2 separate regions of the Homo sapiens genome follow, and region 2 is linked to region 1. Evidence: fine-mapped expression QTL. A gene starts in region 1. The other region holds a variant in brackets. All regions are shown on one strand. Distances are between the middles of the regions.

Region 1 (5,378 bases):
AGTATTGCCATAATAGCACTTTATGACTAGGGGTGGGAAGATGGATTTGGGTAAAATTCAAACAAAACCTGACATTTGGAAATTTCTGAGAGATCTCAAAAGCAACAAGCAGTTGGATTTGTTTTCTCTCTTTTGTTTCTCCCCACCCTCCGTGCATTTCCCAGGCACTAGTTTGGCCTCAGAACAGCAGAAGTGAAACACCAAAAATATAATCTAAAAGGCTTTCCTTGTTCTACTACTTTCTGGACTAGAGGAAAGGAGAACCTAGGAAGCTTTAATAGTTCTAAAGAGAATTCTTAGATGGATTAGATAGGCTCAGGTTTTCATTGTATTTGAGTAAAATGATCACTGCCCACAGAAACTTATCACTGGGAAATCAACAGCAGCACTCTGGAATGTAACTAAAAGAAGATAATCTCTAGCTCCTTGTATACACAAATCCAACCTCTATGTGGACATGATATTAGCAAATAAGATCTCTCTTACCCCATCCATGTGGATTCTGACATTAGGCACTAGCCGGAAAGGACTGGCCTGCAGACGTCTGGGGTTGGTCCTGCTTTTCCTGCCATCCTGCAAGGTCATCGTGCCAGGCCTGCGGAAGGAGCCCCCTCTCCCGGAGCTCTGCCCTGAGCGCACTCCATCCAGAAGGCGCACGAGCAGCAGGTTGGCCGGCAGCGCCTCAATGTTGGAAAACACAGGCGTCCTGCATTCGGGGCACCGCAGCTCTTTGTGGGCCTTGAAAACCCTCTGTAGACATGGTTTGCAGAAGGTGTGCTGGCAAGGGAGGACTTTGGCTGTGACATCGAGCTTCTCAAAGCACACAGGGCACTCCAGAAGATCAAGTAACGTCAAATCATCCATTTTATTTCAAAACTCCAGTTCCCACCTGGAGGAGCAGCGTCCACATGGTAGGGTCAGTTGAGCCACGGGGGCAGAGCTGGTCTCTTGAGAACGTCAGAATTTTTGCCTGCTTGAAGGAGGGAGAGGAGAGAAAAAAAAATGTGACTGCTCCGAGAGGTATATCCCACCTACATTGAGGCAGTGTCTCATAAGGCAGTTTGCAAGTACTTTGTTCCGGCACCCAAGTTTCAAATGACTCATTCTGATTCAATGCTAGCAGGTATAAGACTCAACTCGTGCTTGCTGTGAGGATCAGAGGGAACATTCAGCACAAGACTGACTGCTTATTGCCTATGTGGACAGGAAAGCAGGGAGATAAACTGGCCTGCTGAAGTGGCCCCCCAACCCCTCTCTACCAGCCAGGGCGGGAAGAGGTCCTTTACCCCCTGCCCGGGGAAAGCTCCTGGACAGTCTCAATTCTTACAACAAAGCCCCCTCCGAACGCAATTTCTGTGAAGCTATCTCCTCCTCCTCCTTCCCCTAAATCTAAATGTATCTATTATCTGCACCACATGCAGATTAGTTTAGGTGGGTAAGTTTATCTGAATCTCATGCAGATGTAGAATTATTTCCTTCACAATATACCTTCCCACATGATTCTAGCAATGTACAAGAAAAATTTCCACTAGAAACCCATTTCCAAAAATTGTTTTGCCTTAACCACAGGTCAGGGTGCTTGGAAGCTTTGTTTCTTTTCTTTTTTCATCTTTTTTTTTTTTTCTCTCCTCATCCCGATTACCTTAGGCTCAGAGACAATGTTCCTCCCACAAGGTAAAGTAGTGCAGCCTGTTTAGTTACTTTGACATTGTTCTCAATTTCAAATGAAGCAGATAGGAATTCTGGATTGTGGTCACGACCTGTAAAAACCGTACTGGGGCAGCATATACAGGTAGGGGTCGTGTGTGTGTGTACTCTGAAAACAGTACTTGTTCCAGAAACAAGTTTCCTTTTGGATGTATGAAAAGAAGCCTCCAGTTTAGAAAAGTCTGGAAGAAGTCAGCTGTCCCTCACAAGTGCCAGGGCTTCGGTAAGCACCGAGCCCAGAGGTTTGGCGAGAAGGCCAGTGGCCCCACTAGCGACTAGTAAGCAGGACAGACACGACCGAGAATGAGCGATGGCGCCTCGCCTTCCTAAGCCTCCTCTCCAAAGATGTCAGCGCGGCAGCGGGCTGGGGAGGCGTGTGGGGGCCACTAACCTTGTGCATGTAACTTCTGCTGAGTTCAGCTCAGCCCCCTCCTCCGCGCAGCAGGGGTGCGCTGCGCCCTCCAACCGGCTTCCTTTCCTCCAAGCGCCGCTGCTGCCAACCGCTTTGAAAACTTTAACCACTCAGTCTTACTCATTTCAAGGGATCGCCTTACCCAGCCCTGTTAACGCTTTCACTGCCAGGGCGCTGCCTACTTACCACGCTTTTGTTGTTGCAGTTGTTAACTTTATGATCTTTCCTTCAGTTTACTGAATTGCTTCTGGGAAAAGATTGTAAGAGGTAAAATATAAGCCAGTCCCTAAGGCCAAGTATTTACAAAGTTCATATTTTCACCTTTCCCGTTTTCTGTAGTATCCAAGGAGTCAGAACCTGCTCCATTATAAACATACCAAAGTGATTGTGTTTATTTTAAATCTTCATAAGGATTTCCTGGGAAGGTCAAAAGTAAAAATGGTCAAGCTATGAAAACAAGGATAAGTCGGACACCTAGAAAATATTGCTCTTTGAAAATCATAGTCAATCTCTGAATTTAGAGATAAGAGGGACTTTAGTGATCTTTTTGCTCAATCTGTTTAAATTAAAAAACTAGTGTCACGTATATACACATACGTGAAAAATCAAAGCACAGAGAAGCTTTTTCAAAAAAGGAAAAGCAGTGGCCTCCAAGCTCTCCTCCTGCCTGTTATCCACTGTAGTCTTTTCATATCCTCAGATTATGCCTATATTTCTATTTTTTGATTTATCGATAATACATTTCATGTAAAATTACAAAGGTATCCGATTAAGTGAATAATAACAATCTTAATGCCAGGGTAGTCCTTATCTGTGTCAACCACTGTTCTAAATACCTTACCTGTGTTAGCCCTTTAACCCCTTAACAACCCAAGGAGACACTAAACTATTCTTTACTTTCATCTTGCAGATGAGGGAACTTGAGACACAGAGAGGATAAATAACTCATCTCGGGAGTCACAGCTAGCAGAAGGCAAGTGGGCTGTGCTCTTAACAATGTCATGGAGTGATATAACTTTAAGAGGCTGGCCAGGCGCAGTGGCTCATGCCTGTAATCCCAACACTTTGGGAGGCCGACGTGGGCAGATCACAAGGTCAGGAGATCAAGACCATCCTGACCAACATGGTGAAACCTCATTTCTACTAAAAATACAAAAATTAGCTGGGCATGGTGGTGCGCACCTGAAGTCCCAGCTACTCAGGAGGCTGAGGCAGGAGAATCGCTTGAACCTGGGAGGCGGAGGCTGGAGTGAGCTGAGATCGTGCCACTGCACTCCAGCCAGGGCGACAAAAAAAAAAAAAAAAAAAAAGAGGTGAAGAGGTGGTTCAAGGGAGCTAAGCCTCCCCTAAGAGGGCAAGAGGTCAAAAGATAATGGACAAAACTGGCTACTCACTTTCTCTTACAGATGAGGCAGCTGTGCCCAGAAAGATCAAGGGATTCTTTGAAGTTGTCCAGTGAGTTAGGGGCAGAATTGGGACTAGAAACTAGGTGTTTGAGGCCAGGCGCGGTGACTCATGCCTGTAATCCCAGCACTTTGGAAGGCTGAGGTGTGGGTGGATTGCTTGAGGTCAGGAGTTTGAGACCAGCCTGGCCAACATGGTGAAGCCCGATCTCTACTAAAAATGCAAAAATTAGCTGGGTGTGTTGGCTGGGAGTGCTTGGGAGGCTGAAGCACAAGAATCACTTGAACCTGGGAGGTGGAGGCTGCAGTGAGCTGAGATTGTGCCATTGCACTCCAGCCTGGGCGACTAAGACTCCGTCTCAAAAAAAAAAAAAAAAAAAAAGAGAAAGAAACTGGGTGTTCTTTTTAAAATTATTGTTATTACTATATCTTCTCTCTAGACGTAAGGATGACAATTATTTATTATGCAGAGAGTGTTCAGACACAGCTCAATGGGAAAATCTTAAGAGGAGACCAGGAGGTCTGAAAACATTGTTTACATATTTTTCCACGTTCTTTCATGTTAGTTCCAAAACATCAAACATGCATGTGGCCCAGAACTTTAGGATGGAGCCGATGGTTATCTATTTTCTGAGCACGGAGGCCTAATTTTGATGTAGGACAATTTCAGAGACCACTTTCAACTATTACTTTTTTAACGTCACTTTTGAGCTTTGATAACATCACATCCCATTCTGCTTGCCTGTCTCCTTCTATTAATTTCTACTCTTGAGTCTGTGCCACTAAGGAAGCTCTTGAGGTTTACTGTCCTCTTACTCTGTTTCCCACTTAGTAAAGCTGAGTCAGTTTCCTTTGTGCCCTGCAGTGGTCTCACTCCGTAAAAAGGGCCACTCCTATGCTGGAACTCCTGTTGCAGAGATTGGCGATATTTTTCATTATTCTTTCTCTTGTTCTTAAACACACTCTATCTCCCTTACATACTCATATCTGCACCTATATGCAGATGCATGCATACACTTGTGTAAGGGTGCACACATACATAATCTTAATAATAGTAACACCTATGGAGCACTTGCTGTATGCCACTGACCAATGCTAAGATTTTAAACATATTATCTCATTGAATTCTCCCAACCACCCCGTAAGATACTGTAACTTTCCCAGGGTTACAAACCTTGTGATCTGAACTCAGGTTGGTCTAATCCCGGGGCCTGTGTTTCTTTTCATTTTATAAAATCATGTACATATCATAAGTACACCCATGTATCTTTACTATTTAAATCTGCACATGGTTACACATATACCCATATTGTACACACCAGCTGATCTCAGAGCCAACCCAAGACAAAATATTGATGTCAGAAAAGGAGATTGGGCCCCTCTGGGTTGTAGTCTACCCATCTCATGGCCCCTCCACACCCCTGTATGGTCAATGGTCTTAAAAGCTTCAAACCTTCCCATCCCTGAGAAAATGCAGTCAAACCAGCTCAGTCCCAGGAAGGCAGACTAGATCCAGTGGGTTACTCTTGTAGCAAATCTGGCAATTGAAAATCCAGCCAAGTAGAATCGTGATGGTAGAATTTTAGGTTCTAATGGAGGACAGAGAAAAGGTACACTGAAGCGAGGGGTCATCTTTCAGCACCTCTCAAACGACGCCCTGTAGGTGGTCCCCAACACCACCCACATGAGGTTAGTCTTGAAGAGAAAATTTCTTGAAACTTTTAAAGAAGGGCGAGAGTTTTAAATGGGGATTTGTTCTGGCTTACCCAAATACTACCTTGGCATCAAATCAGATGAACATGTAGTCTTTAAAAACAAACAAAAAGGTGAACTATGCATACCTCTTCAGACTCCAG
Region 2 (5,378 bases), 58 kb after region 1:
TGGTGGTGACATCCCTTTTATCATTTTTTATTGCATCTATTTGATTCTTCTCTCTTTTCTTCTTTATTAGTCTTGCTAGCGGTCTATCAATTTTGTTGATCTTTTCGAAAAAACAGCTCCTGGATTCATTGATTTTTTGAAGGGTTTTTTTTGTGTCTCTATCTCTCTCAGTTCTGCTCTGATCTTAGTTATTTCTTGCCTTCTGGTAGCTTTTGAATTTGTTTGCTCTTTCTTCTCTAGTTCTTTCAATTGTGATGTTAGGGTGTTGATTTTAGATCTTTCCTGCTTTCTCTTGTGGGCATTTAGTGCTATAAATTTCCCTCTACACACTGCTTTAAATGTGTCCCAGAGATTCTGGTACGTTGTGTCTTTGCTCTCATTGATTTCAAAGAACATCTTTATTTCTGCCTTCATTTCGTTATTTACCCAGTAGTTGTTCAGGAGCAGGTTGTTCAGTTTCCATGTAGTTGTGCGGTTTTGAGTGAGTTTCTTAATCCTGAGTTCAAATTTGATTGCACTGTGATCTGAGAGACAGTTTGTGATTTCTGTTCTTTTATGTTTGCTGAGGAGTGCTTTAGTTATGTGGTCAATTTTAGAATAAGTGCAATGTGGTGCTGAGAAGAATGTATATTCTGTTGATTTGGGGTAGAGAGTTCTGTAGATGTCTATTAGGCCCGCTTGGTGCAGAGCTGAGTTCAAGTCCTGGATATCCTTGTTAACCTTCTGTCTCATTAATCTGTCTAATATTGACAGTGGGGTGTTAAAATCTCCCATTATTATTGTGTGGGAATCTAAGTCTCTTTGTCCGTCTCTAAGGACTTGCTTTATCAATCTGGTTGTTCCTGTATTGGGTGCATATATATTTAGGATAGTTAGCTCTTCTTGTTGAATTGATCCCTTTACCATTATGTAATGGCCTTCTTTGTCTCTTTTGATCTTTGTAGGTTTAAAGTCTATTTTATCAGAGACTAGGATTACAACCCCTGCTTTTTTTTTTTTTTTTGCTGTGCATTTGCTTGGTAGATCTTCCTCCATCCCTTTATTTTGAGCCTATGTGTGTCTCTGCACGTGAGATGGGTCTCCTGAATACAGCACACTGATGGGTCTTGACTCTTTATCCAATTTGCCAGTCTGTGTCTTTTAATTTGAGCATTTAGCCTATTTACATTTAAGGTTGATATTGTTTTGTGTGAATTTGATCCTGTCATTATGATGTTAGCTGGCTATTTTGCCTGTTAATTGATGCAGTTTCTTCATAGCATTGATGGTCTTTACAATTTGGCATGTTTTTGCAGGGGCTGGTACTGGTTATTTCTTTCCATGTTTAGTGCTTCCTTCTGGAGTTCTTGTAAGGCAGGCTTGGTAGTGACAAAATCTCTCAGCATTTGCTTGTCTGTAAAGATTTTATTTCTCCTTCACTTTTGAAGCTTAGTTTGGCTGGATATGAAATTCTGGGTTGAAAATTTTCTTTAAGAATGTTGAATATTGGCCCCCACTCTCTTCTGGCTTGTAGGGTTTCTGCCAAGAGATCCACTGTTTGTCTGATGGGCTTCCCTTTATGGGTAACCTGACCTTTCTGTCTGGCTGCCCTTACCATTCTTTCCTTCATTTCTGCCTTGGTGTATCTGACAATTATGTGTTTTGAGGTTGCTCTTCTCGAGGAGTATCTTTGTGTTATTCTCTGTATTTCCTGAATTTGAATGTTGGCCTGCCTTGCTAGGTTGGGGAAGTTCTCCTGGATGATATCCTGCAGAGTGTTTTCCAACTTGGTTCTATTCTCCCCATCAATTTCAGGTACACCTATCAAATGTCGATTTGGTCTTTTCACATAGTCCCATATTTCTCGGAGGCTTTGTTCATTTCTTTCTACTCTTTTTTCTCTAACCTTGTCTTGTCACTTCATTTCATTAATTTGATCTTCAATCACTGATACCCTTTCCTCCACTTGATTGAATCAAGTATTGAAGCTTGTGCATGTGTCATGAAGTTCTCATGCCATGGTTTTCAGCTCCATCAGGTCATTTAAGGTCTTCTCTACACTGTTTATTCTAGTTAACCATTCGTCTAACCTTTTTTCAAGGTTTTTATCTTCCTTGCAATGGGTTTGAGCATGTTCCTTTAGCTCGGAGAAGTTTGTTATTACCAGCCTTCTGAAGCCTACTTCTGTCAACTCATCAAAGTCATTCTCCATCCAGCTTTGATCCGTTGCTGGTGAGAAGGTGTGATCCTTTGGAGGAGAAGAGCACTGTGGTTTTTAGAATTTTCAGCTTTTCTGCTCTGGTTTCTCCCCATCTTTGTGGTTTTATCTACCTTTGGTCTTTGATGTTCGTGACCTACAGATGGGGTTTTGGTGTAGATGTCCTTTTTGTTGATGTTGGTGCTATTTCTTTCTGTTTGTTAGTTTTCCTTCTAACAGTCAGGTCTCTCAGCTGCAGGTCTGTTGGAGTTTGCTGGAGGTCCACTCCAGACCCTGTTTGCCTGGGTATCACCAGCAGATGCTGCAGAACAGCAAAGATTGCAGAACAGCAAATATTGCTGCCTCATCCTTCCTCTGGAAGCTTCATCCCAGAGGGGCACCCACCTATATGAGGTGTCTGTC[G/A]GCCCCTACTGGGAATGCCCCGCCCTGCTTTGGCTCACCCTCCATGGGCTGCACCCACTGTCCAACCAGTCTCAATGAGATGAACCAGGTACCTCAGTTTGAAATGCAGAAATCACATGTCTTCTGCGTTGATCACTTTGGGAGCTGCAGACTGGAGCTGTTCCTATTCGGCCATCTTGGAACAGATCTCTTCTATACAGTTTTATAATATAAATTCTATGTCACAGAACATAAAATCTGTTATATCTTTTCCTACTTAATTTGTATCATAAATCTGTTTCCATATTATTTTCTTATTATTTCCATATGAGGCAGGAGAATCACTTTAACCTGGGAGGCAGAGGTTGCAGTGAGCCAAGATTGCACCACTGCATTCCAGCCTGGCAACAGGGTGAGACTCTGTCTGAAAAAAAAAAAAAAGAATAGTGAAGAGGTAGTATCAGAAGATTTTTTTTTTAATCGACCTTTCTACTAAGGACAAGTGTCTCCTCTCCTTTTTTTTGTTAACCTTTTAAAAATGTCTACATAATTTTTCATATTGTGTCATTGCTATTGTTGAACATTTAAGTTGTTTTCAATTTTTTTCCCAGTATGAATAATATTTAGGGGAGTATCTTTAAATAAATATCTTTCTTTCTTTAAAATGATTTTCTGAAGAGAAATAATTGGGTAGAAAGCAATGGATTTTTTTCATTTATTTTATTCTTGCTTATCAAAGTAAGACAAACTTATCACAGACAAGTAAAATATGATTAAACTGGGAAAGAAAAAAAAACACTCAAAATCCTCCACCCAGTTGCCAGAGTCAACTGATACTAGCATTTTGCCATGATTTCTTTGGATATATGGAGCTACAGTATTTTCTTTCTTAGGAGGTTTCAAGGATATAAATATTTTTAAGGCTTTTGATAATACTGCCAAAACTGCTTTCGATTTATCAATTTGTTCTTCTTCTTGAAGTGTATTTGTGACTATTCTGGAAACACCAACGTCTGAAAATTTTCAGATGAACATGGTTGTTTCAAAACTTCCCATGATTTTAGGTTGGCTCACTGAAAATCTGTCTGTGAACATGGGAAATGGCATAAAAAAGTGTTGAAGAAATGTTACTTGGAAAACTCACCTCCAGCTTTGTTTTTGTTGTTGTTACTGACATTCATTTTGGGGCAATTGAAAATGTTTACTTGACAAGTAGTTGTGGAAGTCAGCTCACTGGTTTTTCTAGATGAAGATAGGCTATTGGTTATTTATTAATATTTGTTTCCTGGGAGAGATAGAAGAAAATATTCTTCTAGTTAGGAGTTCCCAATCTTTTTCATGGCATGGCACACATAGAAAATAATAATTGTTGCATGCCTTGGTCTCAGCTACTCAGGAGGCTGAGGAGGGAGGATTGCTTGAGCCCAGGAGGCAGAGGTTGCAGTGAGCTAAGGTTGCACCCCTGCACTCCAACCTGGGCGACAGAGCAAGACCCTGTCTCAAAAAAAAAAAAAGGAAAATAATAATTGTTACATTTATATGTGTGTGTTTGTGTGTGTGGGTATGTGTGTGTGTGTGTATATATATATATATATATATATATACACACACACACATACAATTTTTTAAGAGATAGGGTCTCACTTTGTCAACCAGGCTGGAGTGCAGTGGCATAATTGTAGCTGGCTTTAGCCTCAAACTCCTGGGCTCAAGCAATCCTCTTGCCTCAGCCTCCTGAGTAGCTGGGACTACAGACAAGCACCACCATGCCCAGATAATTTTTAAAAAACTTTTTGTAGAGACAAAGTCTCATTTTGTTGCCCAGGCTGGTCTCAAACTCTTTGGCTCAAGCAACCCTCCTGCCTCAGCCTCCTGAGTAGCTGGGATTACAGATGTGGGCCACCATGCCCAGCTTGATATTGTTCTATACAGTGAAGTAAATGAATAAGGCTAATGTAGTCCTGGGGGACACCTGGCTGCCATGAGGGCTGAGAGTTCAAGGTCTCAGTCTCCTGTGATTCATTGATGGTGTGTCCCAGACAACTCTGCATCCTGGGGGAGTTACAATGTTATGAAAAGTGTATCTTTCTTTTTCTTTAAACATTGTTTCCCTAGTTCTTCTCTCCCACCTATTTCTGTACCAGTTACACAGGGAATTTACAACTGTGACACCTCTCCTTAGTAGAAAGGTAGATTAAAAAAAAAATCTTCTGATCCTACCTCTTCACTATTCTTTATTTATTTTTTTTTGATGGAGTCTCGCTCTGTCACCAGGCTGGAGTGCAGTGGTGCAATCCTGGCTCACTGCAACCTCTGCCTCCTGGCTTCAAGTGATTCTCCTGCTCTAGCCTCCCGAGTAGCTGGGACTATAAGTGCCTGCCACCACACCCTGCTAATTTTTGTATTTTTGGTAGAGATGAGGTTTCACTATGTTGGCCAGGATGGTCTTAATCTCTTGACCTCGTGATCCACCTGCCTCGGCCCTTCCAAAGTGCTGGGATTACAGGCGTGAGCCACCGCGCCCAGCCACCTCTTCACTATTCTATACAAAATATGCTCAATTCCTTTTTGAAAAGCTTTGTGTATTTGGTTTCTCTCACTTGAAGTCATTCATTTAACAATTACTGAGTTCTATTATGTACTGGGCACTTTGATAAACACTGGGAATAGACAGATAGTAAGGACAACTTCTGACTGCAAGATGTTCACAGTTGAATGGAGGGAAAAATAGGAAGGGCAAGGGAAAGTGAGAAGCATCTGAATGGCGGTAGGTCCGAAAGTCCCATGGCACTCTCCCTGG

Direction of the effects. Positions count from the first base shown, and alleles are read on the strand shown. Sizes are in standard deviations (SD) of each study's normalised expression.
In carriers of allele A in region 2, the expression in subcutaneous fat of the gene that starts at base 2,215 in region 1 tends to be lower than with G alone (large effect, 1.3 SD a copy in FUSION).

The links. PIP is the estimated chance that this variant, and not a neighbour inherited with it, causes the effect.
Region 2: its variant is fine-mapped to the expression of SH3RF2 in subcutaneous fat (FUSION, PIP 0.95).

Annotation. Positions count from the first base shown.
Region 1 is chr5:145,933,415-145,938,792 of GRCh38, reverse strand. SH3RF2 (SH3 domain containing ring finger 2) reads right to left here and starts at 2,215. Exons shown (of 10, transcript NM_152550.4): 1 at 2,099-2,215; 2 at 487-970. The coding sequence starts at 864. LOC107986458 (a long non-coding RNA gene) reads left to right here. Exons shown (of 4, transcript XR_001742913.2): 4 at 3,030-3,092. RefSeq lists an enhancer at 1,900-2,477.
Region 2 is chr5:145,874,996-145,880,373 of GRCh38, reverse strand. It overlaps a transcript of GRXCR2 not described here. Among named protein-coding and RNA genes, the nearest start is that of GRXCR2, 4.7 kb to the right of the region's middle. The variant G/A (reference allele first, on the strand shown) is at 2,600.